4 separate regions of the Homo sapiens genome follow, and regions 1, 2 and 4 are each linked to region 3. The links come from fine-mapping of genetic effects on gene expression. A gene starts in region 3. Each other region holds a variant in brackets. All regions are shown on one strand. Distances are from middle to middle.

Region 1 (8,104 bases), 360 kb after region 3:
ATGCCCAGCTAATTTTTGCATTTTTAGTAGAGATGGGGTTTCATTATGTTGGCTAGGCTAGTCTCAAGCTCCTGACCTCAAGTGATCCACCTGCCTCGGCCTCCCAAAGTGCTGGGATTACAGGCATGAGCCACCACATCTGGCCTAAAGATGTAAATTTTTCAAGGTAAATTTCAAAGCATTAATGGAACCTAATATCATCTGTATCTCTCTCTAGACAGATACCAAAGTTTATATCTATACAGTGATTGATGATATTAATATTTTATCAGAGACTCTCAGGCTTGATCTGTATATTATTTCACCAGTTTTTCCTGCATAGGAAGCTTCTCAAATACAAGGATGGGCATGCAACCTCAGAATCACATAGTCATGGCTTTCAAACAGGAGTCTCTTTTCAAAAGAAAGCTTTGGCCTTGTCCTCTCTCACTCTGCCCCCTTCCCGAAAAGTCCTAGCTGTGTCCTAGGAGAGAGCTTTGCAAAATGGAGGAGGAAACCACTGATCCAGTTTAATACACTCATTTTACAGATAGGGAAATTGAGGCTGAGAGAATCAGTGAGATGATGTGATCAAAATGACAAAACTTTTTTCTTTTTTTTTTCCTTTGGAGACAGGGACTCACTCTGTTGCCCAGGCTGGAGAACACTGACGCCATCACAGCTCACTGCAGCCTTGACCTCCCAGGCTGAAACGATCCTCCCACCTTAGCCTCCCACATAGCTGGGACTACAGATATGCCCACCATGACTAGCTAATTTTTTGTAGAGACAGGGTCTCGCCATGTTGCCCAGGCTGGTCTCGAACTCCTGGGCTCAGGTAATCCTCCTTCCTCGGCCTCCCAAAGTGCTGGGATTACAGGTGTGAGCCCCACGCCCAGCCTATTTCTTTGATTTGTGTCTGTATGACCATCATGGCAATGACAGATCATCCATTCATCAAGGACAATGGGGACTTTTCCCTGGGAACTTGGGTAGATATAATGCAGGAACAGTTTGAACATGTCGGACAGAAAATAATGGTAGAGGTGGTGTGGTCTGAAGGCGGCCACAGCTTTGAGACTGGAGAGCCTACCATCTACTGCCAGCCCTGATCTGAGTCCCTGAGGAAAGCTCAGGCAAGTCAATTGGCATTAGAGCATTTTTGCTTTGTGTCTTCGTCCCTGATTTGAAGAGAAACTCATCTGTATAATCACTTTTTAAGGTACCTGGGAATCTGGGTATGACAGCCTCAGTATATATAAAATAGCTTATTAATCAGAATGGCTGTTCACTCACTGAATCAACATCTAAGACGACTCCATGAAGCCCAAAGGTTTTCAGCATCCCTCGGATGGCAAATTTTGGCAGAGCAGTTCCAACAGCACTGCTGGCTACATTATTGCTGTCTGGAGAGCGGGTTACTACTGTGAGACCTGAGGAGTGTAGAGGGAGAAGTTTTTCAGGAAAAAGTACCACTGCATCTGGGTTCTTACATTTAGCATCTAAAATAGCTCTCCAGATAAACATAAAATAATAAAATAAAATAAAATAAAATAGCTCTACGGGCTTTAACAGAACCCTCAGTTTTGTTATAACCAAGCAAGAACACAACTCAGTCTGGAAGGTAATATAATAGAACGTTGTAAAAGCTCTTACAATTGAAGAATAAAAAGACAAATAAGCCAGTTTAAAATGGGCAAAGAATTTTTTGTTTGTTTTTTGAGACAGAGCCTTGCTCTGTGGCCCAGGCTGGAGTGCAGTGGTGTGATCTCGGCTCACTGCAACCTCCGCCTCCCAGGTTCAAGTGATTCTCCTGCCTCAGCCTCTAGAGTAGCTGGGATTACAGGCGTGCGCCACCAGGCCCAGCTATTTTCTATGTTTTTAGTAGAGATGGAGCCCAGGCCCTACCTCTTTTCTTGTGCAGCTGCCTGCCCCACTCAGCTCATGCTACTGAGTTCTGGGAAGTGGGAAGGGCCCCACCAGGGTTGCCCTAGGGCTTCACATGGGGCGGTGTGGAAGAGGTTAGCCCAGTCGGAGTAAGGAGAGTCACCCTAGGAGAACCACCAGCTGCTTGTGCACATTAAGGAAAATTCAACCTCTCATTTCATAGGAAATTTCATAGGTCGAGTAAGGAGGAAAGCAAAACCTTTTCGAACTTTATCAATTGTGAACTTGTTTGCTTCGTCTTTAATGTCTTCAATGGTGGGAAGATAAAGGTCTCTTGGGATGCCACCATTCTCTTCGTAGAGAAATTCAACCGTCTGTCGGGCAATATCCACCATACCTAAAAAATATAACAGCACAGGGTAACTCCCCAAAGAGTACACACAGATCAACCATGACACTGACTTACATGTAGAGTGAAATGATAAGGGAATCTTTCAAACATTGTTTATGAAAGTACATAACCCTTTGGCGAAGGAAATTGTGCAGTATCTACCATGTTTGGAATACTAAATGTACTACTTTTAGGAATGTCTCAAATCTCTTCCACAGAAATATAAGCACTAAGGCCAGGCACAGTGGCTCACACCTGTAATCCCAGCACGTTGGGAGGCTGAGGCAGGTAGATTACTTGAGGCCAGGAGTTCAAGACCAGCCTGACCAACATGGTGAAACCCCGTCTCTACTAAAAATACAAAAATTAGCCAGGCATGGTGGCAGGCGCCTGTAAACCCAGCTACTCGGGAGGTTGAGGCAGGAGAATTGCTTGAACCCAGGAGACAGAGGTTGCAGTGAGCCAAGCTGGCGCCACTGCACTCCAGCCTCAATGACAGGGAAAGACTCCATCTCAAAAAAAAAAAAAAAAAAAATGGCCAGGCGTAGTGGCTCACGCCTATAATCCCAACACTTTGGGAGGCCGAGGTGGGTGGATCACCTGAGGTCAGGAGTTTGAGACCAGCCTGGCCAACATGGCAAAACCCCGTCTCTATTAAAAATACAAATTAGCTGGGCATGGTAGCAGGTGCCTGTAATCCCAGCCACTCGGGAGGCTGAGGCAGGAGAACTGTTTGAACCCGGGAGGTGGAGGTTGCAGTGAGCTGAGATTGCACCATTGCACTCTAGCCTGGGAGACAGAGCAAGTAGCACTGTTGGTAGATAGCAAAAAAGTAGAAAAAACCGAAGTGTTCATCAGTACAAAATGACTAAAAATGGTCCATTATTTTGCAGTTATTTCATTTTCGTTAACTCAAAATAACAAATTACAGGACAAATGGAGAGGAAGAAGAAAGTGAGGGTAACGTTTCTTTTTCTTTTTCTTTTTTTTTTGAGACAGAGTCTTGCTCTGCCGCCCAGGCTGGAGTGCAGTGGTGCAATCTCGGCTCACTGCAACTTCCATCTCCCAGCTCAAGTGATTCTCATGCTTCAGCCTCTCAAGTAGTTGGGATTACAGGCGCGCACTACCACACTCGGCTAATATTTTTGTATTTTTAGTAGAGATGGGGGTTCACCATGTTGCCTAGGCTGGTCTCAAAACTCCTGACCTCAAGTGATCCGCCTGCCTTGGCCTTCCAAAGTGCTGAGATTACAGGTGTGAGCCACCGTGCCTGGCCAGGTTTATTTCTCTCTATATTTTTGTACTGTTTGATTTTTACTGCAATAAACACATGTTGCTTGTTTAAGAAAGAGAGAAGGCTATATGAGCTTCTTCTATCCACTTATTGAGATTGCTCTTTCTTCCCAGAGAAAGAACATACGATTATGTTTGATAGCAACAGCTACTATTAATTAATAAACCAAGTAATTAAATGTCCAAAGACCTGGGAGGAAAAGCATTATGGGAGGAAAGCAAAATGGGCACAATTCCTCCATATCCTGTTGTTGCCTTAGGCCCCACAGTGCCCAGGACGTTGTGGGTGAAAGGGCAGGTGTTGGTCAGGGGCAGTGGCTCACACCTGTAATCCCAGCACTTTGGAGGCCCGGGTGGGAAGACTGTTTGAAGCCAGGAGTTCAAGACCACCCTGAGGGATATAGCAACACCCTGTCACTACAAAAAATAAAAAAATTAGCCAGGCTTGGTAGTGAGTGCCTGTAGTCCCAGGTACTCGGGAAGCTGAAGCAGGAGGATCTCTTGAGCCCAAGAGTTTGAGGCTGCAATGAGCTATGATTGCACCACTGTACTCCAGCCCAGTTAATATAGAGCGAGACTCTCTCAAAAAAATAATAAAAAAAGTGGGTGTTGATAGAATCTG[CT/C]TTTTTTTTTTTTTTTTTTTTGAGACGGAGTCTGGCTCTGTTGCCCAGGCTGGAGTGCAGTGGCGTGATCTCTGATCACTGCAAGCTCTGCCTCCCGGGTTCCTGCCATTCTCCTGCCTCAGCCTTCCGAGTAACTGGGACTACAGGTGCCTGCCACCATGCCTGGCTAATTTTTTGTATTTTTAGTAGAGACGGGGTTTCACCGTGTTAGCCAGGATGGTCTCAATCTCCTGACCTCATGATCCGCCTGCCTTGGCTTCCCAAAGTCCTGGGATTACAGGCGTGAGCCACTATGCCTGGCCTAGAATCTGCTTTTTTTACACAAGGCCTAACTCCATCCCACCTATCTACCATTCTTTTATTCACTGGTCTTACTGTAAGGAAAAAGCATGGCAATTTTCTGAGCAGAGTTTAAAAGGGTGCTGTGATTAGAGACAGACGCTTTTGGAATTAAGTGTTAGAATAAACAAGAAATTGTGGCCTAAGATTAGAAGATTAGGGAACAATAATCTTTGCAATGTTTTCAAAAGGAACAGTGGGTATGAGAAAAAAAATACTGTTTGTTTATGTATATGTGTGTGTGTGTATGTATGTATGTATGTATGTATGTATGTATGTATGTATTTGAGACAGACTCTTGTTCTATCTTGCCCAGGCTGGAGTGCAGTGGCACAATCTCGGCTCACTGCCGCTTCTGCCTCCTGGGTTCAAGCGATTCTCCTGTCTCAGCCACCGGAGTAGCTTGGACTACAGGCGTGTGCCACCACACCCAGCTAATTTTGCATTTTTAGTAGAGATGGGGTTTCGCCATGTTGGCCAGGCTGCTCTCGAACTCCTGACCTCAGGTGATCCACCCACCTCAGCCTCCTAAAGTGCTGGGATTACAGGCGTGAGCACCATGGCCGGCCAAAAATACTGTTTAATAAGCAGGAATCAGGGAACAGTGAGAGACTGCCAAATCAACCTTGCAGAGCACATATTCCATTTTAAAGATGGGGAAAGCCCAGAGATGTTAAGTAATTTTCTCAAGTCCACACAGCTGGTAAACAGTATGACTTCAGATGTGAACTGTTAACCACCAGACCACAGAGTTTCCCAGTATAACCACTCCAGCTTCACTGCAGCAGCCCATCAACCCAAAATATTCAGCTAAATTGACAAGCAAATCAAAGTCCAGCAATGAAAACAAAAGATCAGAGTTCACTAAAGGTAAGGTCAAAGACACTGTTAAGTATGGTGCAACATTAGATGAGTCTCTCCTGATTTACATTCTGATTTTCATCCAGCTCCTCACTTCAAGTCATGAAGTAACCTCCTTAGCAGAACAAAAAGTACCAGACCTAGTTGTAAGGCCCCCTTTATCTGGTCCAGGCCCGATTTCCGCTCTGCTTCATTGCGGAAGCGTCTTCGGATGGTAGGAAAAACCTTGGTCTCCCATGCTTTCACCAGCAGGGCGTAGTGGTCCTCCTGGAAGCAGAAGGAACCTCATGAACAGAGAAGGAATATCTGGTGCAGGCATCACTGTTTCCCTAACTTACAGCCCTCACCCTGAGGTCTTCACCCCACTTAAATGCCAGTAATAGAAAGATCAGACATAGACCCCTGTACTAGATACACCCCCAGATGCCAGGGCAGGGAACAGCAACACTAGGGCAAGCTCTTCGTTTCCCTCTAAAGAAGCCATAGAAGCACTTTCACAGGATTCTGAACTATTGCAAAGCACTTCACTTCTCCAGTTTCTGGATCTTCACCGGGCAAAATGGCCCAACGGATATCGCTATTGATAGGGGTTTAGAAAAATTAACACTCTAAGGTCACTGTTCAAGCACAATGATGTCACTGAGAGTAACAAAACCAGCTTTGCACTCTCACATCAAAATCACTCCTCCAGGCTTGTCCTAGTCACTAGGGAGCTAAGCAAATGCTGCTGAGTCCTGATCTAAGCCTGTGGGTCTCTTACCTGAGGGATGTCATCATCGTCATCATCATCGCTTTCATCATCTGCAATGGGAGGCGGGTGAGGGTCTGGGCCAGAGGTGATGAAATTCTCATAGCTGAGCTCGACTTTATAATGACAGGAGGTGTCACTATCATATTCTGTAACAGAGCACAAGGACAGCGAATTCTAAACAAGAGCAGGCTAGAAAAATCCTTAACTTCTCACCCTTAGACAAACCAGATTATCTTAATTTGCATGATAGGAAGACTCCTAGTACACTGAGGAATGTTAAATCACAGAGTCTAGGAATAACTAATTATCTATAATTACCCTGAATCCTAAAATAGTTTTTATGAGTATAATTCATTCAATTCAGAGAAGACTTTAGAAAGTCCTTCACTATAGATAGAACTAAACAGGCTTTTTTTTTTTTTTTTTTTTTTTTTTGAGACAGAAGCTCACTCTGTTGCCTAGGCTGGCAAGCAGTGGTGCAAAGATAGGTCACTGCAGCTAAACCTCCTGGGCTCCAGCGATCCTCCCACCTCAACCTCCTGAGTGGCTGGGACTACAGGTGTGTGCCACCACACCTGGCTATTTTTTAAATTTTTTTGTAGAGACAGGGTCTCACTGTGTTGCCTAGGTTGGTCTCAAACTCCTGGGCTCAAGCTATCCTCCTTCCTTGACTTCCCAGTGTTGGGATTATAGATGTGAGCCACAGTGTCTGGCCCTAAACAGAATCTTAAAACAGTTTGCAAACTAGTATCCAATGGGCCAAATATGGCCTGCAGACATCCTTACTTTGGTGAGCTGTTTTATTTAATTTTATGAAAAAATTGTTACAAGTAATCATAAAAGTTTTTTTTTTTTTTTTGAGATGGAGTTTCGCTCTTATTGCCCAGGCTGGAGTGCAATGGCACGATCTCAACTCACTGCAACCTCCACCTCCCGGTTCAAGCAATTCTTCTGCCTCAGCCTCCTGAGTAGTTGGGGATTACAGGCACACGCCACCACCCCCAGCTAATTTTGTATTTTTAGTAGAGACGGGGTTTCTCCATGCTGGTCAGGCTGGTCTCGAACTCCCAACCTTAGGTGATCTGCCCACCTCGGCCTCCCAAAGTGCTGGCATTACAGGCATGAGCCACCTCACCTGACCATCATAAAAGTTTTTAGTGCACGCCTATATATCCATTGCCTAGCATTTTATTATTCTGTGATTACCTTGGTTTTAGGACAATTTTTGAAAATGAGTAACACTGTGACATGAGGAGACTTCATACAAAGTCCTGGGGCTCTAGTGGTCTTGCACTGGCTGCCCTAAGGCATAGCAGGCTTCCTGGAAATGGGGATGAACTTTCTGGTCTGCTGTGCTTCATCCTGCTCCCCACCTTCTTTCACCAGGCCTGTGACCCCATTACCAATGGGCACGTGAGTTTGCAACTCCTGATTGTAATGAGGATGCTCAAGTGCAATGGGTTTATGGAATTCATAACATTCATGGTCTCAGGAAGCCATGGAGGCAGTAAGTTCCAGGAGGTGACTTACGTTGCTGAGCGGTGGCCACGGCAGCAATCCGGCATGGTGGCCCATGAGTGCCTGGGTCTGATGCAATACTGGTGCCAGCATCATTGTCACTGTCAGATGCCATGGCGAAAGGCAGGGCCTCAAAGTTAGCGCTGATCTCTTCTGCTAGGTCAGTGCACAGGTCAGCAGCATTGCGGTGGGCCTGCCCTTCCGCGTAGGCAAACGGCCGGGAGCCAAAGTTAGCTCGGGTTTTGGTGTTCTGGAAAGGAGACCAAATGAAGGATTTGGAAAGACTTACGTTTATTTTTATTTCTGCAAGAGCCCAAGGCGCAGCTCACTAAACGTCACCTTGGAAGAATAGCCCGAGGTGTGTGCTGGCATGAGAAACCAGGTGGGGGCTGGAGGGACTGAGCACACCTGTGCTCAGAGCCCTGTACAGCCAGCCCTGCCTCCCTGTCCCTCACCTCACAC
Region 2 (8,104 bases), 500 kb after region 3:
CAGAATTGTGCATAGGAACGATTCTATTCATGTGCCGAATTTGACAAATTTTATATATAATTATTAGGTACCAGAAGGATGCTGATAGACTGCATGCTCAAGGGTGGGGATTTACATTAATTCATCTTTATACCTTCTGCATTCAAACCTCAATGTGTCTTGAATAGTTTCTCCTGAAATGAGGCACAAAACACAATACCTGGCACAAGGTAAGCACTCAATAACATTTACTAATATTATTTTTAAAAATCTTTTTCGAATTAACTCTAAACTCTTGTCAGTATAGCTTATAGCTTTGTCTGTTTTGCTCACCAATGTATCACAAGTGCCAGAGAACTTGGCACATAATAGATGCTAGACAAATATTTACTGAATGAGCAGCAGATTAAAAATGCTACCTGTCAGTGCACATACATTAAAAATGCCACCTGCTAGGGAACATACATGCTCCCCCAAACAAGACAAACAAGCTACAGAAGGAGCAACAGACACAATAAGGCACCACTTCCAAATGCACTCCCAGGTCAGCACTTCTGTTTGAGACTTCTGACCCTTCACCTTTTTTAAGATCAGAGGCATTAACCTGTGCCTCTAAACCTGTGGTTTGTAACTGTTTGGCTGAATGTGAATATGCACCCAGTGACTACTCAATAAAAATTCCCAATAACTATGGCTGACCACTAAGTCCCTCTAAGAAACATAAGAAAGGTTACCTATTTTATGCCACTGAATCTTGCCCTTCCTGTCAATTCCTGCTCACAGCTGTGCCTGACTAATTAAAACTCCCTGGAAACCTCGTCTATCGCTTTACGGGTTATTTCTTCTGCTACATCAAAAGACTCCACTTTAGAATTCAAATCCATCTGTCTCCCTCAGTCTGCAAAGAACAAATGTTCAGAAAAACTAACCGACTAGCTAAAATTAAATGTACCTTTCCCAGCTAAGACTTAATATGTGTTGGGGGCAGGGAGCAAGCAATCTAAGGATAAACCACTAAAAAGAAGATAAAACAAAGCTTAACCATATGAGATAGTACTTAGATAGTCATTCAACTCCCATCTTAGCAGACCAGGGACAAATCCAGAAATTCTTGGTTGAAATGGATTTATATCCAAAGGCAAAATTTTCTGGTGAAGCTAATATATGACAAACATTGCTCACCCAAAATAATATGACTCTAGACCCCAAAGGTTTGCTCATCCATTTTCCTCTCATTTGGACCTCAGAGAGCCTAAATTGGCTCATAACCTATAGCTTCACTTTTTGATATATGAAATGATTTATTGTTGAAGGCTAACTATTGCCATCTGACATTAAGTACAATAAAATCTCTCACAAAAGGATTTATTGTTGAACTATTGGTCCTATCCCATGATCAGAAAAACACTAAAGGCCGGGCATGGTGGCTCACACCTGTAATCCTAACACCTTGGGAGGCCAAGGCAAGAGGATTGCTTGAGCCTGGGAGTTCAAAACCAGCCCGATCAACACAGGAAGACCCTGTTTTCAACAAAAAAATTAAAAATTAGCCAGTTGTGATAGTGCATGCCTGTAGTCCTACAGGCTCAGGAGGCTGAGGTGGGAGGATCGCTTGAGCCTAAGAGTTTGAGGCTGCAGTGAGCAATGACCGTACCACTGCACTCCAGCCTGGGTGACAGAGTAAGACCCTGTCTATTTAAAAACAAACAAACAAACAAAAAACAATAAGAAATGTAATCTAGTTTTTATGACCTTTCTTTGGAACCTATAACTTCAAACTTCTAAGAATTGTTTCAATTATTGAAGTAAAATATATAAAATTGCCTGATCTTAATGCTGCTTTTACTATCGCATCTGAGTTACAGTTTTGCCTAGAAGTAATTACAGGATGAATACACGAAAATATTCTAGAACACTGAAAAAAACTCTAGTGCAAAATGGATTTTAAGCAAGAAGTTGCCTCTGTGAGATCTGATTAAATTTTTGCTGCCAAAACCACGTATGCCAAATTATGCCATGTCATACCTATCTTCTGTGATGTCACAAGACATCTAAAGTTCAACTTCTCTTTCCAATATGCTTTTTCACCAAAGAAATCCTTTCCCTAGTAAGCAATGTAACAGTTAAAATGAAGCATAAATCACAACCAAAAAATTTTACTTCTTAGAAAGTTCCTTCAAAAACACTGTAATTTATTACACTGATGCACATGTAATTTACAACACTCTGTAACACTCAGAGGTTACTAGTAAAATGAAACAAGTTTCCTTCTTTTATGTTCAAAATCATATAACTGTACAATTTTAGAATTTCACAAAAACTCCTAAAGCTACAGCAAAATCACCTCCAAAGACATGTCAAATCTTTTTTTATTACACTGGAAATCTGCTGTACCAAATATAACAGAAAATAAATGTACAACCACTTAGGCTTAAACATATTTTTGTTACATAAATATGTTGTAAAAGGTTTAACCTGCATCCTTGATGTCCCACAGCACATAGGTAGCATTCTTTCAAAACTATCCTTCAAATTATTTGACATTCTATTTCTTTGAACACTATTTCTAAATAAATTAATTAAACAGCAGGTTCCAAATGCAATTCAACAAGCTTTATGTATGACATGGCTTCTGATGTACAAAGCAGTAATATGCACTGCAAGGATTAAAAAACATTTGAAGGTACAAAAATATTGAACACTGTTTGTATTAGAGAAAAAACTGAGGCTGTGCATGGTGGCTCAGGTCTGTAATCCCAGCACTTGGGGAGACCAGGGAGGGAGGATCACTTGAGGTGAGGAATTTGAGACTAGCCTGGGCAACACGGCAAGACCTCACCTCTACAAAAAAAAATTAAAATTAGCTGGGCATGATGGTACAAGCCTGTAGTCTTAGCTACATGAAAGGCTGAAGTGGGAGGATTTCTTGAGGCCAGGAGTTCAAGGCTCCAGTGAGCTATGATCACGCCACTATACTGCAGCCTGGGCAACAGACAGAGAGACCCCATCTCTTGGGAAAAAAAAAAGTGAAATCAACCTAAAATATTTACCAACAGGAGAAGGGCTAAATCACCTGTGAGGAAGTTAAAAAATAAAGAGGCTGAGTGATATACATGTGAATAAAGCTGAGGCCAGATATTGAGTGAAAAAAACAAGTTGCAAAAATATGCATATAACAACATTGATGTTTTTAAAAAGACAATACTGTATGAATAGCTCCGATGGGTAGCATCTTCAGGTTTTGTGACTGAACAAGCTAAGAGTTGAGATGAACTTGCCTGGAGGACGCCAACTATGGCAGGGAGGAAAATGGAATGGGTTTTGAATAGGGCTTAATGTGAATCCTAAATCTCTCTCCACAAGGCTTCCTAAGGCAAGTCTGTAGATCATTTAACAACTTTTAGTAATAAATTTTGATTTCCACTCATTTAAAACTGTAAGGGACAACTTTTAGAATTTTAACTCCAAGTATTTCCAACCCTTAATGGCTTTAAGGAGAAAAATCAACAACAACTACAGAAATATCCTAGAATGTCCTGTTTTAGCAAAACACTAAAACTGAAAACCAAAAACTGCAGGGGGGTTATAACTGGTCCTCTGGTTTCTGTAACAATTCAGATGAGTGTTATGCATAAAGAACATGACCTGGTAAACCGCCACACTATAAGAAACTAAACAAGCCATCCAACACTTCTGTTCAAAATACAAACTCCAAAACTAGCTTAACTCAGAGCTCACAAAAAGGTCAACAGGGCAGAGGCACATAAGTATGAATACAGAAGAGGATAGACTGGGGGGAAGATGGCAGTAGGTCTCTGGACTGTCTTGAGTTTTTCCTATCACATATAAAATGTTTGGATTAAGAAAAAAATCAGGGCCAGATGTGGTAGCTCACACCTGTAATCCCAGCACTTTGGGAGCCTGAGGCAGGTGGATCACATGAGGTCAGGAGTTCAAGACCAGCCTGACCAACATGGTGAAACC[C/T]CGTCTCTATTAAAAATATAAAATAAGCCAGGCGTGGTGGCGCATGCCTGTAATCCCAGCTATTTGGGAGGCTGAGGCAGGAGGACTGCTTGAACCTGGGAGATACAGGTTGCAGTGAGCTGAGATCACGCCATTGCACTCCAGCCTGGGCAATGAGAATGAAACTCCGTCTCAAAAAAAGAAAAGAGAAGAGAAGAGAAGAGAGAAGAGAAGATAAAAGATAAGATCAGGCTGGGTACAGAGGTGCATGCCTGTCCCAGCACTTTGGGAGGCCAAGGCAAGAGGATCACATGAGCCCAGGAGTTCAAGACCAGCCTGACTAGTATAGTAAGACTCCATCTTTTAAAAATTGCCAAAAATAGTAGGGTGTGATGGCATGTACCTGTGGTCCCAGCTACTCAGGAGGCTGAGGCAAGAGGATTACTTGAGCCTAGGAGGTTGAGGCTGCAGTAAGCCATGATGGCCCTGCTGCACACTCCAACCTGGGTGACAGAGCAAGACCCTATCCCCTACCAAAAAAAGAAAAAAAAAAAGTGTGATGGAAGAACAAGGTCAGAAGAAGAAAAAAGAAGAAAAAAACCAGGACAATGAAACGATATGAAAACAATAAACAAGACTCTAACTCCTGTCTACAAAAACAAACAAAACCAACCAACCAAACAAGCAAACCTTAATAGTATAAGAAACACAAAAGTAAATACCAGAATAAGCAATTAGAGGAAAATTAGTTTACAAGAGAAAATTAACTATATATTAATTATATTATGGCATTTGTTACAGAGCCTGGAAGTAAATTCATGAAATAATGAGGTTCGAGTAATTTATCTTTTCTTCCTTTTGCTTTTTCAAATTTTGTCAGGTGAGTATGTATGGCTTTTGTAAGATGCTATTTTAGAAAGAACAGGAAGTAGCTGGCCAGGCCGGTGGCTCACGAGGTCAGGAGATCAAGACCATCCTGGCTAACACAGTGAAACCCCGTCTCTACTAAAAATACAAAAAATTAGCCGGGCATGGTGGCGGGCACCTGTAGTCCCAGCTACTCGGGAGGCTGAGGCAGGAGAATGGCGTGAACCCGGGAGGCAGAGCTTGCAGTGAGCAGAGATCGTGCCACTGCACTCCAGCCTGGGCGATAGAGCGAGACTCCGTCTCAAAAACAAAATAAAGAAAGAAAGAAGAGAAAGCAAACATGGATCTTTCCTGAATGTTCTGGAGCTATGGCTCAAGAACTCACAGGAAGTCTGGTAGTTAGGAGAAACATTTACCAAATGTTTATGATGTGCTGGAATAAGAAGCTTCCATTCGCTATAGTCCTTAACCTGGAAAACCACAGCATGAGGTAGCTAAGGAGTGCGACTGCCCCATTTCACAGGTGAGAAAACTGCGGGTTTAGAAGGTTAACCCATTGGCCAAGGTTACCTCACTTGTAATTGGTGTACTAGAATTAAAAGGCAGTCTCTAAACTCAGAGCCCACTTTGTGAACCACATTACCTGTGTTTCTCACACACACCTGATAAGAATCACCTTGAGCACTGGTGAAAAAATCATATTCCCCCTATGCCTTCTGCCAGAGATCCTGGGAATCTGCATGTTTAACAGGCATCCCAGAAATTCTTTTCTCTCTCTCCTTTTGTTTCCTTTTCTTTCCCTCCCCTCAGATCACTTTGGTACATACCAGCAATTCTTACCAGGTGCAGCTTGAGAAACTCTGCCCACCCTCGACTGCCACTCAAACTTTTTATTTAGGATGAAGCCTATTACTACATATAAACTGGCTCTCATTGCAAGATGAGCTATTTAAATGCCAGATACTGCACTCCAAGACAAGCACAAACAAAACCTAGACCATCTATAGTTGAAGCTACTCTTGGCTTTCCAGAGAGAGAGAGAAATTGTCACTTTATAACATAAATCAGGAAAGATTTTTGTGTTGAGGCTGCCATAGTTCTTGAATTTCTCCAGCCCCGACAGTTGCTCTGAGAGTCATATTTTCCCCAGCCAGAACTCAGTGGTGGGGAAAGGAGCAGGGCAATATGTTGAGTGACCACTCTATTTGATTGCTCTCCTTTTTTAAAATACGAGAAAAGGAGACAGAATTTCACATTCCTAAATCAGAGCTTTCCTAGCTCTTAATTATCAATTATTATCAATTATTTGGATTAGTATTTCATATATCCATATATACTGGAAATGTTGGTGCCCAAGGCAAATTGGAGAATTCATGTCCCTCCTAAAGGTATTCAAAGTATTTTTGAAAACCTCTGCACATCAAACAAAATCTGTGGGTTGAATCTGGCCTTCTAACTACAGTTTGCAATTCCTCTGGCCTCGACTTTTCATGTTTCTTTTTTCATAAATATATACATTTATCATATAAAATATATATTTATATATTTCAGGAAGGAGGAGCAAATGTTGAATAAAAAATATCTGATGATAAATGAGTTGGTGTCTGTCAAGCAGGCTCTTTGAAAAAGGAGACTCAGCCAGGCATGGTGGCTCATGTCTGTAATCCCAGGACTTTCGGAGGCCGAGGTGGGTGGATCACTTGAGGCCGGGAGTTCAAGACCAGCCTGGCCAACACGGCAAAAACCCATCTCTACAAAAATACAAAAATTAGCCGGGTGTGATGGAGCACGCTTGTAATCCCAGCTACTTGGGAAGCTGAGGCATAAGAATCGCTTGCAACCCGGGAGGCAGTGGTTGCAGTGAGCCAAGATTGCACCACTGCACTCCAGCCTGGGAGTCAGAGAGAGACCCTGTCTCAAAAACACAAAAAAGAAAGAAAAGAAAACAGAGACTCCCGGATTGGGAAGAACCTAGCAATTGAAATACAAAGCCAGGGAAACTTAAGGAATTTACTTGCACTTCAGTTACCTAATATTAACCATCAATATGCAAATATCATACGTCAGAACCCTAGTGGAGCTATGATTCACAACCTTTCTTCTATTCCAACATAGCTGAGAAAGACATCACACTCTGTGGTTTCCTAAAGCCAAGATGCTCAGGGCAGAAGGAGATGGGGGCCCCATGGCAGGTGGTAAGAACTGCTGATTTAGAACATAAGGACAGTATGTTAGCCCAAGCTGTGTTTGCTCTCATGCCAATTGCTTGCCAGATGAACTGTACACACATTCCATTTATATGGATGACGTGTAACAGGACAATATACAGAATTCCATGCTTGAGCTTTTTCAGGCTGTCACCTCATGGGCTCTGCCTCTATCTTTGCCCCAGTCTTGAGCAGAAATAGTTCGCTTCTGAGTCTGGATAGGCCATAGAGATCTACCATAAAATAGCAGAACACCATGAACTTTTATAATCTGAACATTTTAAAGACCAAGCATTCTAATTGCAGGTGGAAAAACTTAAAAAATTTTTAAATTTAATCAAATCGCTGCAGCACAGAGAAAAGTTATGGTTGATATTAAGAAATAAACTAGATTAACACAAGAGTAGTTCTACAAGGGAATGCATTAGGAGGAGCATATACTTTATCTGGGTAACCCTAGCATCTTTCTATTTTTATAAGCGACCTCTAAAGCAAGAGGTGAGAAACCTATCAATTTTATAGTTGAGAGAAATAAGCCTCACCAAACAGACTCTACTATGCCCTTGAAATAGGTTTTAGAATGCTCCTGAATGTTGTATCAAACAGAACTATAGATGGAAAACTTAAAACTTATATTCACTAAAATATTATGTGGAGCATAATCCTATTTTTATAAAAAATGTGGGCCGGGAGATCATGCCTGTAATCCCAGCACTTTAGAGGTCGAGGCAGATGAATCGCTTGAGGCCAAGAATTTGAGACCAGCCTAGCAACATAGCTAGACCCTGTCTCTATAAAAAAAAATTAAAAGATGAGCTGGACACAGTGGTGTGTGCGTATAGTCCCACCTCCTTGGGATTGCTTGAGCACAGGTATTCGAAGTTGCAGTGAGCTATGATCACACCACCGCAGTCTAGCTAGCTTGAGCAACAAAGTGAAACCCCCTATCTTTTGGGGAAAAAAAAGTGTATATTAGCAAGAAATGAAAAAATATATAAATAAATAAAAGTGCATGCATAGGTTTTATATATAAACCTATGTATGTATATATACTAAGCATTTATATATCTAGAGAGAGGAAGAGGAGG
Region 3 (8,104 bases):
GGGCCACGATCAAGTTGTGGGCTGGGGATGCCATCAGCTAAAGGCTCAATTTGGTGAGTATCCTTTCTAAGCTCATGTATGTGTGGGTAGTCCTTAGGTACTCACTGGCAGCTGGTAAGAGATGTTAGTTCCTCGCCATGTCTGTAATGGACTGAATAGTATATTGCCCCAAAATTCATGTTTGCACAGAAGCTCAGAATGTGACCTTATTTGGAAATAGGGTCTTTGCAGATGTAATTAAGATGAGATCGTGCTGGATGATGTTGGGCCCTAAATCCAACGACTGTTTTATTAAGAGGAGAGGACACAGAGAGACACACAGGGAAGGCCATGTGAAGACAGAGGAAGAGCCTGGAGTGATACAGCCAAAGAATGCCAAGGACTGTCTGGAGCCACCAGAAGGAAGGAGTCTTCCCTGTAGCCTTCAGAGGGAACATGGCTTTGTTGACACTTTTTTTTTTTTTTTTTTGAGACAGTCTCACACTGTCGCCCAGGCTGGAGTGCAGTGGCGTGATCTTGACTCACTGCAAGCTGTGCCTCTCGGGTTCACGCCATTCTCCTGCCTCAGCCTCCTGAGTCGCTGGGACTACAGGAGTCCGCCACCCGACCTGGCTATTTTTCTGTATTTTTAGTAGAGATGGGGGGTTTCACCGTGTTAGCTGAGACGGTCTAGATCTCCTGACCTCATGATCTGCCCAACTCGGCCTCCCAAAGTGCTGGGATTACAGGCATGAGCCACCGTGCCCCACCACTTTTTTTTTTGAGATAGAGTCTCGATCTGTTGCCCAGACTGGAGTTCACAGGTGCGGTCTCCGTTCACTGCAACCTCTCTGCCTCCCGGGTTCAGGTGATTCTCCTGGCTCAGCCTCCAGAGTAGCTGGGATTACAGGTGCCTGCCACCACCACTGGCTAATTTTTTTATTTTTATTTTTAGTAGAGACAGGGTTTCACCATGTTGGCCAGGCTGGTCTCGAACTCCTGACCTCAAGTGATCTGCCCGCTTTGGCCTCCCAAAGTGCTGGGAGTACAGGAGTGAGCCACAGTACTCGGCCTCTGCTGACACATTCATTACAGACTTCTAGCATCTGGAGCTGTGAGGATAAACTTCTGTTGTTTTAAGCCACCCAATTTGTGATACTTTGTTACAGCAGCCTTAGGAACCAAGTGAGCTGGCTTCCCTAAGAGCAGATAAGTAAAAGAGTCAGAGAGGGCCCCAATGGAAGCCAGAGTTTTTCTGCTACCTAATCTTGAACATGACATCTGTTCACTGAAAGCAAACCACTTGATCCAGACCACATGCAGGGCGAGAGGACTACATAAGATCATAAATACCAAGATGTGAGCATCACTGGAGGCTGTGAACCAGGGCTGCCACACCAGCAAAAAACAGAGGAATTTCATTGGAAGAAACCGCTTTCTTCAGGGTTCTGCCTTCTCCATTCATTGATTCCTTCGACAAATAAATTTATTAAGTACCTACAATGGACTGGGTATTAGGGACATATGACCAATAAGACAAATAAGATTCTTTCCCTTGTTGAGATTATTTAGTTACAGGATAATAGGAACATCTGATTTAGATTAGGAAAGGAGGGTATGGGCAAGGCATGCCTTTCTGAAAAAACATTATCAAGAATTGGCCAGGTGTGGTGGCTCACGCCTGTAATCCCAGCACTCTAGGAGGCTGACGTGGGCGGATCACCTAAGGTCAGGAGTTCGAGACCAGCCTGGCCAACATGGTGAAACCCTGTCTCTACTAAAAATACAAAAATTAGCCGGGCGTGGTGGCGGGTGCCTGTAATCCCAGCAACTCGGGAGGCTGAGGCAGAAGAATCACTTGAACTCAGGAGGCGGCGGTTGCAGTGAGCCGAGATCGCACCACTGCACTCCAGCCTGGGGGACACAGTGAGCCTCCGCCTCAAAGAAGAATAAAGTTGAAGAATGAGTAGAAACCAGGCTGTGTGTGTATGTGTGTGTGTTATGAGGGAAGCATGAGTTTCTAGGTAGTGGGAAAGCACGTGCAAATAAGTCGGTAAGTTGAACAGCTAGACTAAAAGCTGCTTGAGAGCAGGGACCTTGTCTCTTCATTGCTGCATCTCTATTATACGACATCATCTCTGCATCTCTATTACAAGACATAGAGCCTGGCAGAGAGAAATTCTTACTGGATGAAATGAATGAATAAATCCAAGGCATCTTCTATAGGTTAGTGCAAAAATGACTGCAGTTTTTGCCATTATTTTTAAATGGCAAAAACCACAATTACTTTTGCACGAATATTTCCTGTTACAGATGTCAACTGAAGTCATTTAAAAATTTTCTCCCAAAGTTCATCGCGGGATCATTGCTCTTATTCATATTAGGTAGCATAGGCAAAGCTGCTAGAACAAAAGACTCAAAGTAAGTAAACGGTCAACACAAGTTTATTTATTCTCACATAACAATACTGAGTGGATATTTAGGTCAGTAAGGCACAGTTCTCCTCCACTTAGGAATCTCCCATCTTCAGGCCTTGCCTTCTCCAGAGCCTGGTCACCATCTGCTTCCAGTTGGCAGAAGGAGTAACAGCACAGGGGAGCACCTGTTGGAGGTCTGTATGGGCCAGGCCTGGAAACTGCACACCTCTTCTGGTCACTTTCCGCTGGGGAGAGCATAGGCACAGAGCCACACTTAAATTTTACTTTGAGGAATGCAGTGTAGGTGTATGTCCGACAAAGAAAACAATAATTCGGTAGACAAATAAGTCTCCACTCCAATATTCAATTACTTACTTAACTTATGCTCTGGTATGTCTCAAATTAACCTAGATAGAAATGAACTCTGAATCTTCCACTTCCATCAAGTTTTTCACTCACTCAATGGCATCATTATCCATCCAGTTGCTTAAGCATACATTTGAAAGTTATCCTTGGTCTGTTTCTTATCCTTCCCTTCCACATCTAATCCTTCAGGAAGTCCTGACAATGTTACCTCCAAAATATGTCTTAAATCCATCTTCTCAGCCAGGCACGGTGGCTCACGCCTGTAATCCCAGTACTTTGGGAGGCCAAGGGAGGTGAATCACTTGAACTCAGGGGTTGGAGAGCAGCCGGGGCAATGTGGAGAGACCCAATCTCTACAAAAAAAATACGAAAAATTAGCCAGGCATGGTGGCATGCGCCTATAGTCCCAGCTACTCAGGATGCTGAGGTGGGAGGATCGCCTGAGCCCAGGAGGTCTAGGTTGCAGTGAGCTGTGATCACGCCACTGCACTCTAGACAGTGGGACCGTTTAAAAAAAAAAATCCATCTTCTCTACACCTTTACCGCCACCTCCTTAGTTCAGACAGTGTAATAATCTCTCATCTGCATTATTCTCCAATAGCCTCCTAATAGCTCTGTTTCCATTCTTGCTTTCCTATATTCTATTCTCTACAAAGCAGAGTGATCTTTTAAAACAAATTTGTTCACATCACTCTTTACTTTAAAACCTTACAATAGCTTAGAATAAAATCCAAAGTCCTGATTATGACCCCCAAAGGCCACATATGATGCAGCCCCTGCCCACATCTCCAACCTCATCCTTTTTATACTTTTTTTTTTCTTTTTTTGAAATAGAGACGGGGTTTCGCCATGTTGGCCAGGCCGGTCTCGAACTCCTGACTTCAAGTGATCCGCCCGCCTTGGCCTCCCGAAGTGCTGGGATTACAGGCGTGACCCACCGCGCCCAGCCTCCAACCTCACCCTTTATCAGTCTCCTCCTACTCGATCTACTCCAGCTACAATGACCTTCTTGCTGATTCTTGAACATATTTAGCTTATTTCCACCTTAAAATTTCTACCCATCTGCCCAGAAATCTTTCCTTGGATTTCCAATAGCCAGCCCTTTCTCATTCCTCAGGGGTCTCAGCTTAAATGTTACCTCCTGAGATTCCTTCCTTAATCATCTAATACGAAGAAGTCCCCACATCCAGTTATTCTCTTACCTCAGCATCCTGTTTATGTTCTTCTTAGCATCAGACTCGGGCTTTTTCCTGTTTATTACCTACTTCGTTTTCCTGAAAGATCCATGTGCCGGTACCATGTGTTGTTCCTACTGTTTCTCCAATGTCTAGTAGATTTGGCACATACTGATGTGCAATTAATACGTGAATGAAGAACCATTGACAGACGATTAGTCAAAAGCTCTTGCAAAGCCCTTTGATAGGTTATCGGTGGAGAGTAGGGAGCACAAACCTGGGGTCCCATTCTAGCTTGACCACTTCTCGGCTGTGCACAAACTAGTCTAGCTCTCCTGAGCCTCAGTTACCTATTTTGCAAATTAGGGATGGGAACATCCATACCTCACGACGCCAAACGGCTACCTTGTAAAGACGAAAGGAGGAAATGCAGGAAATAACTCCACGTAAGGTTAATGCTCCGTAAACAGAGCTGCTACTGCTATTATATATTCTATACAATCCTGCGCCCTTAACGGCAGGACCCTTTCAGTGCTTCAGTCCTGTCTTCTCTCTCCTGGGTTGACCTCCACAGATCCTCTCAGAAGAGCGTTTTCCAGGCGTGAATCTCCGCAGAGTGGAGATAAAGGCTGAGGCCCCAACGCACGCGCACTCACGCGAGTCCGGGCCTATGACGTCATTAGCGCAGCGCCATCGCCGCGGAAGGCCCAGGGGCCTGTCCTGTATGCGGCGTGTCTTAGGGAGGCCCAGGCGGACGCCTGCAAGTCGGGTGCGCGGTTCGGGGGCGGCTCGGAAACCCCAGCGGAAGGCAGCAAGGGGCGCGTGGGGCCGTGGAGTCACGAAGCTGGGCGGCAGGAGGGGCGGCCTGGAGCTCCCGCGGGGCACAGCGCGTGCGTGAGGGCGGCCGGCGGGGCTGCCCGGCGCGGGTGTCCCGGCGATGTGTGGCGCTGAGGCGGCGGCGGGAGCAGCGGCGCCGAGCTCTGCTTCGGCTTCGGCTTCGGCTTCGCGGCGGTGCAGGCGGCGGAGGCGGAGGCGCAGGCTCTTCTTTAGGACCTGGCGAGCCCAGGTCTAAGCGGCGGCCCCGCGAGGCCCTTGCACGGCGCCCCGGGTCGAGGCCCTCCCCGCCTCGCCCTACCCCAGGAGCCTGCCTCCCCAGCTGGGGATGAGGCTAGGAGGCGGCCGCGTGGGGCCCAGCACAAAGACCTGTCCCCAGGGGCCGCCGCCTCCGCCGCTGCTGCTGCCGCCAGCCTAGAGCCGCCCGCCGAAGCAGAGCCGGCGCCGGGGTCCTCATCCCCACCGGTCCCGAGGGGCGGCTGCTGCCCGTCGCCACGAGGCCCAGGGGCCCGAGTGCCGAGCCCTTTGCTCCCTCGGCCGCGCGGGGACAGGGCTGCTGAGCAGCCTCCGCCTCTCCCGGCTGTGGGGGCCCCACTGAGTATGTCGGAGGAGAGCGACATGGACAAAGCCATCAAGGTAAGGGGGAGGTGCCCCCTCTTCCCCCGCGTTGTCCTGTGGCGTTCTTCTCGGCTCTAGCCTCAAAAAGCAGGGAGATTTTGCAGTGAGAGGTTCCATCGACTACCGGGTTTCGGCCTCCCCCGGATTCCGTGGATCGCGCTTTACAGCCCTGGGGCCAAGGGTTATGGGTGTGGGTGTAGGTGTGTGTCCGACTCCCGCCAGCTTCCCTGGTGAGTGTGATTTGTGCTCAGCTGGAACAGAGGTGAGTGGCCTGGAGACACTATTAAGTGTCAATGAATGGGACGAAGAGAGCCCTACTACTACTACTACACGTTTCGATCACTCCCCAAGGCCGCCAGCATTTGCTTCCGGATGGTCTACAGAACTTGGAGAGTTGGAATTTATCCATCCCTCCCGATTTGTTTGAAATCAGCCTTCTGGAAATCTGCAGTTGGAAAAAGGTGGTTCGCCGTACAAAACCTGTCCTTTGGGGAATAGGTTGTCCTCACTTTTCCGTGTATTCTCCCCTTTTTCTTTTTCCTCTTCTTTCTCCTAGGAAGCATTGAGTTTACTTAGGAAAAGTTAACAGTTCCTGTGACTTAACTGCACTTAAACCAAAAGAAAAGCAAATGTGTGTTCGAAAATTACACAAATAAAATAAGTTTTCTAAAACCTGTTTTTAACTTTTTTTTTTTTTAAAGGCACATTTTGCCCACTCAGGGCCAGTTATCTGTCTTGACAGCTGTAGCTAAGAAATTAGTCTTATGAAAATTAAACATTGACGCTTAAAGTTTGATGTATTATTTACTTATTTGTAGTGTTAAGTCAGCCCAGTGCATTGAATAATTTCATTTTATCTTGAAGGACAGGCATCTATTGGCAGCTTGGGGTTATTTTCCCCTTCAAGACAGTTACTAGTAATGATTAAGAATTTACATTTCTACCAATTCTTTAGGTGGTGTATATAGTTTCTCAAAATCATCAAGTCATTCCAAAGAAACTTAACCCTTTAAAGGAGGCATCAACATATAACATATACATTAAGGAAGACCAGGTTTTTTGTCTGTTTGTTTGTTTTTGAGACGGAGTCTCACTCTGTCGCCCAGGCTGGAGTGCAGTGGCCCGATCTTGGCTCACTGCAAGTTCCGCCTCCTGGGTTCACGCCATTCTCCTGCCTCAGCCTCCCGAGTAGCTGGGATTACAGGCGCCCACCCACCACGCCCTGCTAATTTTTTCTTTTGTTTGTATTTTTAGTAGAGACGGGGTTTCACCGTAATAGCCAGGATGGGCTCGATCTCCTGACCTCGTGATCTGCCCGCCTTGGCCTCCCAAAATGGTGGGATTACAGGCGTGAGCCACCGTGCCTGGCCCAAGGAAGACGAGGTTTTAAATCATAAAGATTCTAAAAGACTGCCTTGACATATCCTTCTTTTGTTTTGGGTTTTGTTTTTTTTTTTGAGTCGGAGTCTGGCTTTGTCATCCAGGCTGGAGTGCAGTGGGATGCTCTTGGCTCACTGCAACCTCCACCTCCCAGGTTCAAGTGATTCTCCTGCCTCAGCCTCCCCAGTAGCTGGGACTACAGGCACGTGCCACCACACCCAGCTAATTTTTTTGTATTTTTAGTAGAGGTGGGGTTTCACTGTGTTAGCCAGGATGGTCTCCATCTCCTGACGTCATGATTTGCCCGCCTCGGCCTCCCAAAGTTCTGAGATAACAGGTGTGAGCCACCGCGCCCAGCCTTGGTTTGGGTTTTATTGGCACAGAGGCATGATATGCCGCCTGAAGTTATTTAATTGGGTTGTGAATCAAAGCGTATGTGGCCAGTTTTTAAACATTGTCTCCTGTGTGCCAGATGGTGTCCTAGACACAAATGGTACAAGCCAGACTCCTAGATGTCCCTACTGTCATGTAGCTTATATTCTAGAGGGTGGGGTTACTGCTAGGTGGTTTTAATTAAGTGTGGAAAGGGTGAGGAGTACTGTGTTAAATAGGGTAGTCCGAGGAGGTGACACTGTAGAGTTCTGATGGAAATGCGAGAGCAAGCCACCACTGTCTCAGGGAAGAGTATAACAGGCAGTGGGAATAGCAAGGACAGACCTTGAGGTAGAAGCAGGTGTAGTGTGATGTAGGAAGAGCAAGGTGGCTGGAATGCAGTGGGTCAGTGGAGATGATGTAGAGCAGCAATGGGAAGCAAGGCACTTAGGGCCTTGTAGGCCATCGTAAGAACTTTGGGTTTGACCCTGATTAAAAGGGGAACTATAGGAGAGTTTTGAACAGAAGAGAGACATAGTTCCAGGAGATAAGTATACAAATAGGGCAGCAATGTCACTTAGTGGTTGTTATAGCTTCTCTAGGTAGACTCAGTTGAAATCTCACCCTATGTTTTTTTTTGATACAGAGTCTCACTCTGTCACCCAGGCTGGAGTGCAGTGGTGTGATCTCGGCTCACTGCAGCCGCCTCCTCCCAGGTTCAAGCAATTCTTGTGCCTTGGCCCTCCGAGTAGCTGGGACTACAGGCGCACACCACCACGCCCGGCTATTTTTGTTGTTATTGCTATTTTGTTGTTATTGTTGTTATATTGCTAGAAAAGATGGGGTTTCACCATGTTGGCCAGGCTGGTCTCGAACTCCTGACCTCAGGTTATCTGTCCGCCTTGGCCTCCCAAAGTGTTGGGACTACAGGCATGAGCTACCACGCCCAGCCCAGCGTTTCTA
Region 4 (8,104 bases), 390 kb before region 3:
CTCAGCCAGCAGGCAGGTGGCAGCCAGGCTGGCTGTGGGTGAGGAGGGGAATCCTCTTTTCACCACTGCCTGCCTGCTCAGCAGTTCTTCAGCTGCTGGGGGTGGAGCTGGCTTGCAGGGGCCAGAGTCAGAGTGAAACCGGCAGCTCTGCTGGTTAATCTCAGCACTGACACTGGGGACTAGGCCTGGAGCGGAACTGAAAGGGAGACTAGGCCCGTTCCCCTCCAGGCCTGGCCTATATCCTCCCAGTGATCCTTAAGGCCTGCAGCTAGGGGGAAGGGTGGGGGCCAGGCAGGGCCAACTGGAAAAGTAGCAGAAGGAAGTGGCCACTCGCACCTTACCCATCTTGCAGACAGGAAATGAAGGCTCTGCAGGGCTGGCTGGCTGTAAAAATGGGCAAGAGCGCAGAGGCCCCACTCCCTGCACACTGCGCTGTGTCCAGTGCCCGTGTGGATGCCATGTGAGGCCTCACTCTGCCTGCCTCATCCTGGCTGCTGGACCTCTGGGAGTAGGAGGTGAAAATGCCCTGGCTGGTGCTGGTCACTTCAGGCTGGAATTTTCTAGTCATGCAGCTTTCTAGTGAGAGGCCGCAGTGAGCTGTGGCCAGTGTTGGTCATTCCTGCAGTCATTACTCTCCCCCAGCCTGTTGTGTCCGCCAACCAGAGCAGGCCCGGGAGCTCCCAGGAGACCTGCTGGAAGGGCCCAGGTGGCCATCCTGCTCCTGCCAGGCTGCCCTCTTACCTCACTGTTCATTGACTCTCCTGCAGGTGGGGAAGGGGGATAAAGGAGGTGGCCAGGCCACTGGGTCATGATCCTTCCGACAGAGGTACCTGGCAGCTCTGTGTGTAAAGCAAGGTTAAGCATCTGGTTTTGGGGGTCAATTCAACAGCACTAGCAGCTCCAGTCCAAGGTATGCCCTTTTGGGCTGAGGTGGAGGTCAGATCACCTGAAGCCACAGTTGCTAGAACATCCTTTGGGCTGCCTCTGCTTTCCATCCCCCTGCTCCCAGTTTGTTAGGGGTTGTAGTATTTTCCAGGAACACCTGAATGGAGGGGGCCCAGTGGGGCCACTTCTGTCCATTCCTTATCTCATCTCTTTCTCCCCTTTTCTTCTTTCGGCCATCTTTTCAGTCTTATCACAAGAGGAAGGGGAGGGGCAAACCCCCTCCTGAGCAGATTCCCAACCGGAAGCAGCTGGCTCCTTGGCTGCAGAGTGCCCCAGCACAGGAAGCATCTGCAGGGTCAGTTGAGACCTGGGAGCAGGTTTCCTGCTGGCAAAGGAACAGTGGCTAACTCCTATCCACCCTGCAGCCCTATGTGCCGGGTGTCCTGGGAAGGTCCAGGGCCAAGATTTTGTGGTTTTACAGTGGCTATAACTTAGGCTAGCCATGCTAGGCTCTGCCCCTTTGGGCTTGGTGTGATGAGACCGTCAGCAGCTGCTATCACCTGGCTGGGCAGGGAGCTGTTTGCTCACCAGTGGGAAGAGAAACGGATGTCAGACACATGGCAGAGTGGGAATGTCTCCAAGTCCAGGTCCAATGGGCTGGGAGGGCTGGCCTTCTGCCAGCACATGCTTCTTGGGATCTCAGTGTGAATGGTGTTCAGGAGGCTAGGGGAAGGCACCCTGGACCTCACTACAGGCTCAGAGCCTGCCCAGCAACACCATGGATACTCTCTCTAAAAGGGGGACTCCTGGGGAGACTATAGACAAACTCAGGCCTGGCTGGAAGAAAGAGCATCAGGAACAAGCCTTGAGTACCCCAACTTGGTCTCGTAGAGTTCAAGGCCCAAGCTACAAGCAGCTTGCTCCAGCATCCAGGAGGTCCGGTGGTGCACACGGCTTGAGATGCCTGACAACCTTTACACCTTTGTGCTGAAGGTGAGTGACAAGGCTTTTCACACCCTGGGGCAATACAAATACATACACATACAGCAGACCCAACCCTGTTCCCTTCCTCCCTGCCAGGTGAAGGACCGGACAGACATCATCTTTGAGGTGGGAGACGAGCAGCAGCTGAATTCATGGATGGCTGAGCTCTCGGAGTGCACAGGCCGAGGGTGAGGTCCTGGGCCCTCGTCCCTGGCACCACCTTTGCTGCTACCACCCCTGACCTGCCCAGATCCTTAACCTCAGCCTCTTCTCCAGCAGGCTGGAGAGCACAGAAGCAGAGATGCATATTCCCTCAGCCCTAGAGCCTAGCACGTCCAGCTCCCCAAGGGGCAGCACAGATTCCCTTAACCAAGGTGGGTAAACCAATAGCTAGGCCATTGTCTTCTGGGTACGCTGGAACCCAGACTCAGCCCAGGACATAAGGTAGCCCCCTGCGACCACCATCACCCATCTTATCTAACAGGTGCTTCTCCTGGGGGGCTGCTGGACCCGGCCTGCCAGAAGACGGACCATTTCCTGTCCTGCTACCCCTGGTTCCACGGCCCCATCTCCAGAGTGAAAGCAGCTCAGCTGGTTCAGCTGCAGGGCCCTGATGCTCATGGAGTGTTCCTGGTGCGGCAGAGCGAGACGCGGCGTGGGGAATACGTGCTCACTTTCAACTTTCAGGGGATAGCCAAGGTATGGGGTGGGGTGGGGTGGGGTGGGGCAGGCAGGACCGTGCCACCCCTCTCCACTGGAGTTCAGGGTCCTAGAGGGACAGCCCGAGCCCACCATCCTCTCCTCCCACAGCACCTGCGCCTGTCGCTGACAGAGCGGGGCCAGTGCCGTGTGCAGCACCTCCACTTTCCCTCGGTCGTGGACATGCTCCACCACTTCCAGCGCTCGCCCATCCCACTCGAGTGCGGCGCCGCCTGTGATGTCCGGCTCTCCAGCTACGTGGTAGTCGTCTCCCAACCACCAGGTCTGACCCTACTGCCCTTTGCTGAAGGGGGTGGCTGACACTGGGTAGAGGGTAGAGGCTTGCTGCAGACCCAGGGGTACAGGTATCTTGTTCTGTGTCCTGTCAGCACTTGCCTCAAGACTGATGGTGTGGTCTCTCTTGGTCACTTGTCCTAGGTTCCTGCAACACGGTCCTCTTCCCTTTCTCCCTTCCTCACTGGGATTCAGAGTCCCTTCCTCACTGGGGTTCAGAGTTGGGCCTTCCCCACCTTAGTTCTTCTGGCTGTCCCCGGGGGCTCAGCCCAGAGGGTCTCCCAGGGCGATCCTCACCCCCCGAGCAGATCTTCCACCTGGTGCCTTCGCCCGAAGAACTGGCCAACAGCCTGCAGCACCTGGAGCATGAGCCTGTGAATCGAGCCCGGGACTCGGACTACGAAATGGACTCATCCTCCCGGAGCCACCTGCGGGCCATAGACAATCAGTACACACCTCTCTGACCAGTGAGGAATTCCAGGCCTCAACAGCTGCCCTTGAGGAGCACAGGCAGAAGTGTGAACTTGTGAATGTAATTGATCTTTCCTTCCTTCCAGAGAAAGATTTAAGGGACACTGTTAACTGCTCGTGCCAGTTTGGAAGTGACCCTTCTATTAGGCCTGTTGAAGGGCCCTCCTGTAGGTTTCATCTATCCACCTGGCTTTCTCCTTATTGTTTACAGATGTAGTTCTTGTTAGAGGATGCCGCTAGCTCCTGCCC[G/A]GGGTCCCTATGCCCAGTCCCCGTTACTCTTAGAGAAAGGAGTTGGGGTGAGGGCCAGAGCTGGCAGTGGAAACTTGTTCTCTTTTTCACTGACACTGTCACAGCGGATGACAGACTTTCTACGGGGAGGAGGGGGGGATCATCAGGAAGCCCAGAACACTAACAAGCGGTTCTCCCATCTACCGTCAGTCCACATGGCAGGTCTGCTGTGTCCACACCACAGATGACCACATCTAATCCTGCTTCTACTCTCAGCTTTAGGACAAAAGCTCTGTCAGAGGCACAAGCTGAAGGTCAAAAATGATTTAAAACATTTTACCTCAGACTAATTTCTTTAAAGGATTCAGGTTCAAAACTTAACCACTGCTTATTTCAGTGCACTGTTTCAACTAACACCCATGCTATTTTTGTAGTCAGAAACAGCTATGCAAACCCTACCTAATTTACAGTCTGAGCCAGCATGCTGGCTTGTCTACTGCATCCTCGGGACAGTCACCTGCCACTGAGTGGCCACTGTCCTTCCTAAATGTCAAGAAGTGAAGTATGTCACCCTTTCAGGGAAATTCAGGCAATTACTGAAATAGGAGGGTGGCAAGAACAGTTCTATCCTGGTGCCTTACGAATAAAAAACTGGATTCTGGTTTACAGCAGCTTTACAGTGATAGTTAAATTAACTGGGGCTAGGGGAAGAGCAAGCAAAAAGGGAAGAAGGACTCCTAGGCCCTTTCTAGTAAATCCTTCAGCAACAAGGCTGGCTTGGTGCCCTCCAAGCATCTAATGGCTTATTAAATTATCCCACAAGTGGGTTTTAGGCTCCTTTTTTGAGCCAAAATGGAAGCTGGGAATCTGGTGCCATAACTAATGAGAAACTCCTTTAATAGCCCACAATCAGTGTTCTGTTCTAGCTGGCTACTGCTTCACTGGATTGAGAATCTATCTATCTCCTTGCACACATGGGCACACACAATCTCCACCATCCAGGGAGGTCCTGAAGTCAAATCTCTATCTATACAAGTGATACAATTCATAGGGGGCTGGCTCCTCCCAGAACCTGTCTGGAGGCTCAGAAACGGGGGCAGTGACAGTGGAGTCAGCTGCTCTTGGGTGCCAGCAGAGCCATTCAGTACAACCCCCAGGCTCACAGCAGTGGCTTCTAGGAAACTGGGAGTTTAGATCAGCTTTACAGATACATCGATCAGAGGCTAAAATGAAACCTCAGCCTAAAACTCATAGGACTGACTGCCTGGGAGGAGGGTTAGGTCTGCTTCTTCCACTTATACTTAGTCTCTGTGCTCCAAGAGGTCAAATTTTTGCTTCTAGAATTTCCTTGGGGTCTTTCAGAGGGTGGGGGAACAAACCCCTATGCACTTTTCTTTTTTTTTTTTTTGAGATGGAGTTTCTCTTGTCAACCGGGCTGGAGTGCAGTGGTGCAATCTTGGCTCACTGCAACCTCCACCTTCCTGGTTCAAGCGATTCTGCCTCGACCTCTCAAGTAGCTGGGATTACAAGCACCAGCCACCATGCCTGGCTAATTTTGTATTTTTAGTAGAGACAGGGTTTCACCATGTTGGCCAGGCTGGTCTCGAATGTCTGACCTCAGGTGATCCACCCGCCTTGGCCTCCCAAAGTGCTGGGATTACAGGCGCGAGCCACCGCGCCCAGCCTACACCACTTTTAGTACCAACACTCTTGGGTGATTTCATGGACCCTAAAGCAGACCTGACACTGATCCAGATTTGCAGTCCATTTTTAAGGACACCTGTCTTTATTTCCTCAAAGTCAAGCAGCTTTCTCTGGAAAATGAATGCTAATTAGTGTGAACCAAAAGAGTAAGTAAGAGTCTGAAGTTTTTTTAAAGGAGAAAGCTTATTATGGAAAGTCACTGGTCCTCCCCTCCGCACAGGAAAGGTACCCAGTAGATAATGAACCAAATTAAGTTCCCTCCCTCCAGCCAGAAGTTAAACATCTGGGATATGACGTCTTCATGCCAGGGGCACTCATTTCTTAGCAGCCTCTCTACATACATCTCTCAGGTGGTGCCAAGAGGCACACCAGGTAGAGCAAACTTAGCAGCTCTGACTAACAGGCTGCAAAGTGCAAGTTCAGATTCTGTGGCAGAGATTTGGAAGGCACCCACCTCCAGACTGCTTCCCGTCCAAGTTACCAGGACAGCTCAAAAACATGCTGACAGAAAACTCCCATGGCTCTAGGAAGAAGTGACACTAAGCCAACACCTTTCTTTATGTGGGAGCAGAATCAGCTGATGAAGGGGTGGGCAGCAGTGTGGGGCAGGCACCCCACTGGCTGCAGCTAGCCCACCATAGGCACAGCACATCCCACCACTCTCCTTCCAGTCCTGACCAGGCCCCAGCCGGCAACTTCTACCGAGAGCCATGGCTCAACACCAAACTGGACAGTAGACATCATGATCCCTCCAGTTAGCTCTAATTACAGACCCCACCAGTACAGCTTGACAGCTCCCGGCACCATCCCTTCCTTCATCTGACTTATTGAACTTTTACAAACTAACAGTCACCAGCACCAAAGAATTAAGTCAACTAACCTGCCTTGAATTTTAGACCAGCAATCCATATGGCTTTATCTGGTATAAATCTTCTGCCTTTGATCATTTCTGGACCGTAGGAAAAAGGAATAGCAATCATTAAAATCTTGGGCCAGAGAACACTATTTTTACATAACAGTTTCTTAACCTAAAGTCAAGGCCTTGGACTCTTCCCTGAGGGTTGCCTGAGATTCCTTCATGCTTTCTATTCAGGACTAAGTCCCTTACTGCAAATGTGTTAGCTCTAACATCTCCCACAAGCTAGAGGAACTTGCGAGTATATTAACAAGGACACATCTGACATCCTGTGTTTGGTTAGAATATACAGCACATTGTGATAACATAAAGTGGATTCATCTTGTATCATTATAGGCAGAAGGTATTTGGCAAATTTTTATGTATTGTTTTATGTACTGTACAAGTAACTTATTCTTGAATAATGCAAATTTTGCTATAATGTACAAATTGCTATATGTGAATTAAAAAGTTTTCAGAATCTTGATTTGCTGTCATAATATTTAAAGGCTCTATTAAGACCATGGTGTCTCTACAAAATCCTTGCCCTGCCCAAATACTCGCTCTTCCCTTTGTCCTCCCCGTTGCAATCTGGGAATACTAACAAATGCTTATGAGTCCATCCATGTCAATAAGCAGCTTTGTACATCTTTGTATCTTTTCAGCCTTCATGCCCTCTGGATTTCTTTATTGCAATTTTTTTCTGAGTGTCTCCTGCCCCCTACTGGTAAAGTAGAAAAATGCCCGAATTGGGAACTTCCAGCTAATGACACTCATTTTGGTTCAGGAGATATTAAAAAGGAAGCTTACAGAATCGGTGTCAGCCCGAGGATGTGGAATTTCAGTGCTGCCCAACTCTGGCCAACCTTCCTCCTCCTGAAGCAGATCTCTAATCCACCAAAGAGAATAGCTCAGTCTTGTCTTTTTCTAGAGATACCTTGAACCAGAACTAAGGGTGAAGAAGAAAAATCATTTCACAGCTACCTTCCGGGATATTCAAAATGCACCCTTAGCACACCTGCTTTGATATTAAGTATCCTACAAAGAAGTAGCTTATACAGACACACACTAACTTGATCAGTTTTTAAAACTTTTTTTATTTTTTAAATTTTTTTTAAGTTTTTATTTTATATTATCTACAAAGTAAAAGTTTTTCCCTTAACTTAAAAGTTGAACCACTGTAGACAGTGATCACCTCATCAAACTTGATTTATAAATAATAATCCGTCAGTTTGACGGTAAGAATTTACTGAAACTTTGTCAAGTTTAGTAAAAGGGCGTTCCAAGTCTTGATTTTTTTTTTTTTTTTTTTTTAGCAGTAATAGCAGCAAGAATCACTCTTGTTACTTCTTTTGCTAGCTGATGTGTTCATGACTTTCAAGGGTTATTAAAAAATAAATAACTTCCAGTTTCGGCAAGCAGAGCTGGGGTACCTGCGGGACTCTGAAACAGCATATGGAATTATGGAATAGCCCCCAAGTTCCTAAATGCCTCTACTCGGTCCAAGTATCTTCCACTGCAAGTGAACTGTTAGCATTCCTATTGGATGTTACAAGAAATCAACATATATATTTTAAAAACAAAATAAATGAAATTCTAGTTTTCTGTGCTTCCAGTTGGTAGAAGCAGTAGAAGGGAGGAGGGAATTTGGCCTTTCGGTTCCTCCAGGGCAGCCTTACAACTGCTGTTGGTGGTGGGCTTGTACTGTAAAAAGAAAAGCGAACATTGAAACAGAAAACTGGCAACACCACACATCAGCCTAGTGTCTCTGCAGCACATGATTGTAAACTATCCTCGTGCTAGCTGAACAAAACTCAAAATTGAATTCGCTTTTCCCCCTCCCATCTGCACCAAAGTGGGGAGGGTTGGGTGGGTGGGTAGAAACAAACCAGTCAGACGTAAAACCACTTCAGATAAAACTCCCAGAAGACTTGTTCATGGGGT

Direction of the effects. Alleles are on the strand shown, and positions count from the first base shown. SD is a standard deviation of normalised expression in the study named. Not every link is listed here.
As copies of CT replace C in region 1, the expression in fetal neocortex of the gene that starts at base 4,866 in region 3 goes up (large effect, 1.0 SD a copy in Walker 2019).

What was found. PIP is the estimated chance that this variant, and not a neighbour inherited with it, causes the effect.
Region 1: its variant is fine-mapped to the expression of MAPKAPK5 in fetal neocortex (Walker 2019, PIP 0.95).
Region 2: its variant is fine-mapped to the expression of MAPKAPK5 in whole blood (TOPMed, PIP 0.93).
Region 4: its variant is fine-mapped to the expression of MAPKAPK5 in whole blood (TOPMed, PIP 0.99).

What each region holds. Positions count from the first base shown.
Region 1 is chr12:112,202,361-112,210,464 of GRCh38, forward strand. HECTD4 (HECT domain E3 ubiquitin protein ligase 4) reads right to left here. Exons shown (of 76, transcript NM_001388303.1): 50 at 7,655-7,892; 51 at 6,134-6,270; 52 at 5,514-5,640; 53 at 2,126-2,263; 54 at 1,276-1,412. Among named protein-coding and RNA genes, the nearest start is that of MIR6861, 43 kb to the left of the region's middle. The variant CT/C (reference allele first, on the strand shown) is at 4,173.
Region 2 is chr12:112,340,783-112,348,886 of GRCh38, forward strand. All of the region lies in intron 1 of HECTD4 (HECT domain E3 ubiquitin protein ligase 4), which reads right to left. Among named protein-coding and RNA genes, the nearest start is that of HECTD4, 38 kb to the right of the region's middle. The variant C/T (reference allele first, on the strand shown) is at 3,964.
Region 3 is chr12:111,837,363-111,845,466 of GRCh38, forward strand. MAPKAPK5 (MAPK activated protein kinase 5) reads left to right here and starts at 4,866. Exons shown (of 14, transcript NM_003668.4): 1 at 4,866-5,407. The coding sequence starts at 5,372. It overlaps MAPKAPK5-AS1 (MAPKAPK5 antisense RNA 1), which reads right to left and starts at 5,643. Exons shown (of 2, transcript NR_015404.2): 1 at 3,965-5,643; 2 at 2,405-3,115. RefSeq lists enhancers at 4,442-4,721, 5,452-5,551 and silencers at 4,752-4,931, 5,012-5,361, 7,043-7,211.
Region 4 is chr12:111,444,977-111,453,080 of GRCh38, forward strand. SH2B3 (SH2B adaptor protein 3) reads left to right here. Exons shown (of 8, transcript NM_005475.3): 3 at 1,777-1,878; 4 at 1,966-2,057; 5 at 2,149-2,243; 6 at 2,354-2,568; 7 at 2,680-2,851; 8 at 3,007-6,647. The coding sequence ends at 3,326. ATXN2 (ataxin 2) reads right to left here. Exons shown (of 25, transcript NM_001372574.1): 25 at 7,238-7,864. The coding sequence ends at 7,836. Among named protein-coding and RNA genes, the nearest start is that of SH2B3, 43 kb to the left of the region's middle. RefSeq lists enhancers at 159-428, 3,549-3,618. The variant G/A (reference allele first, on the strand shown) is at 3,583.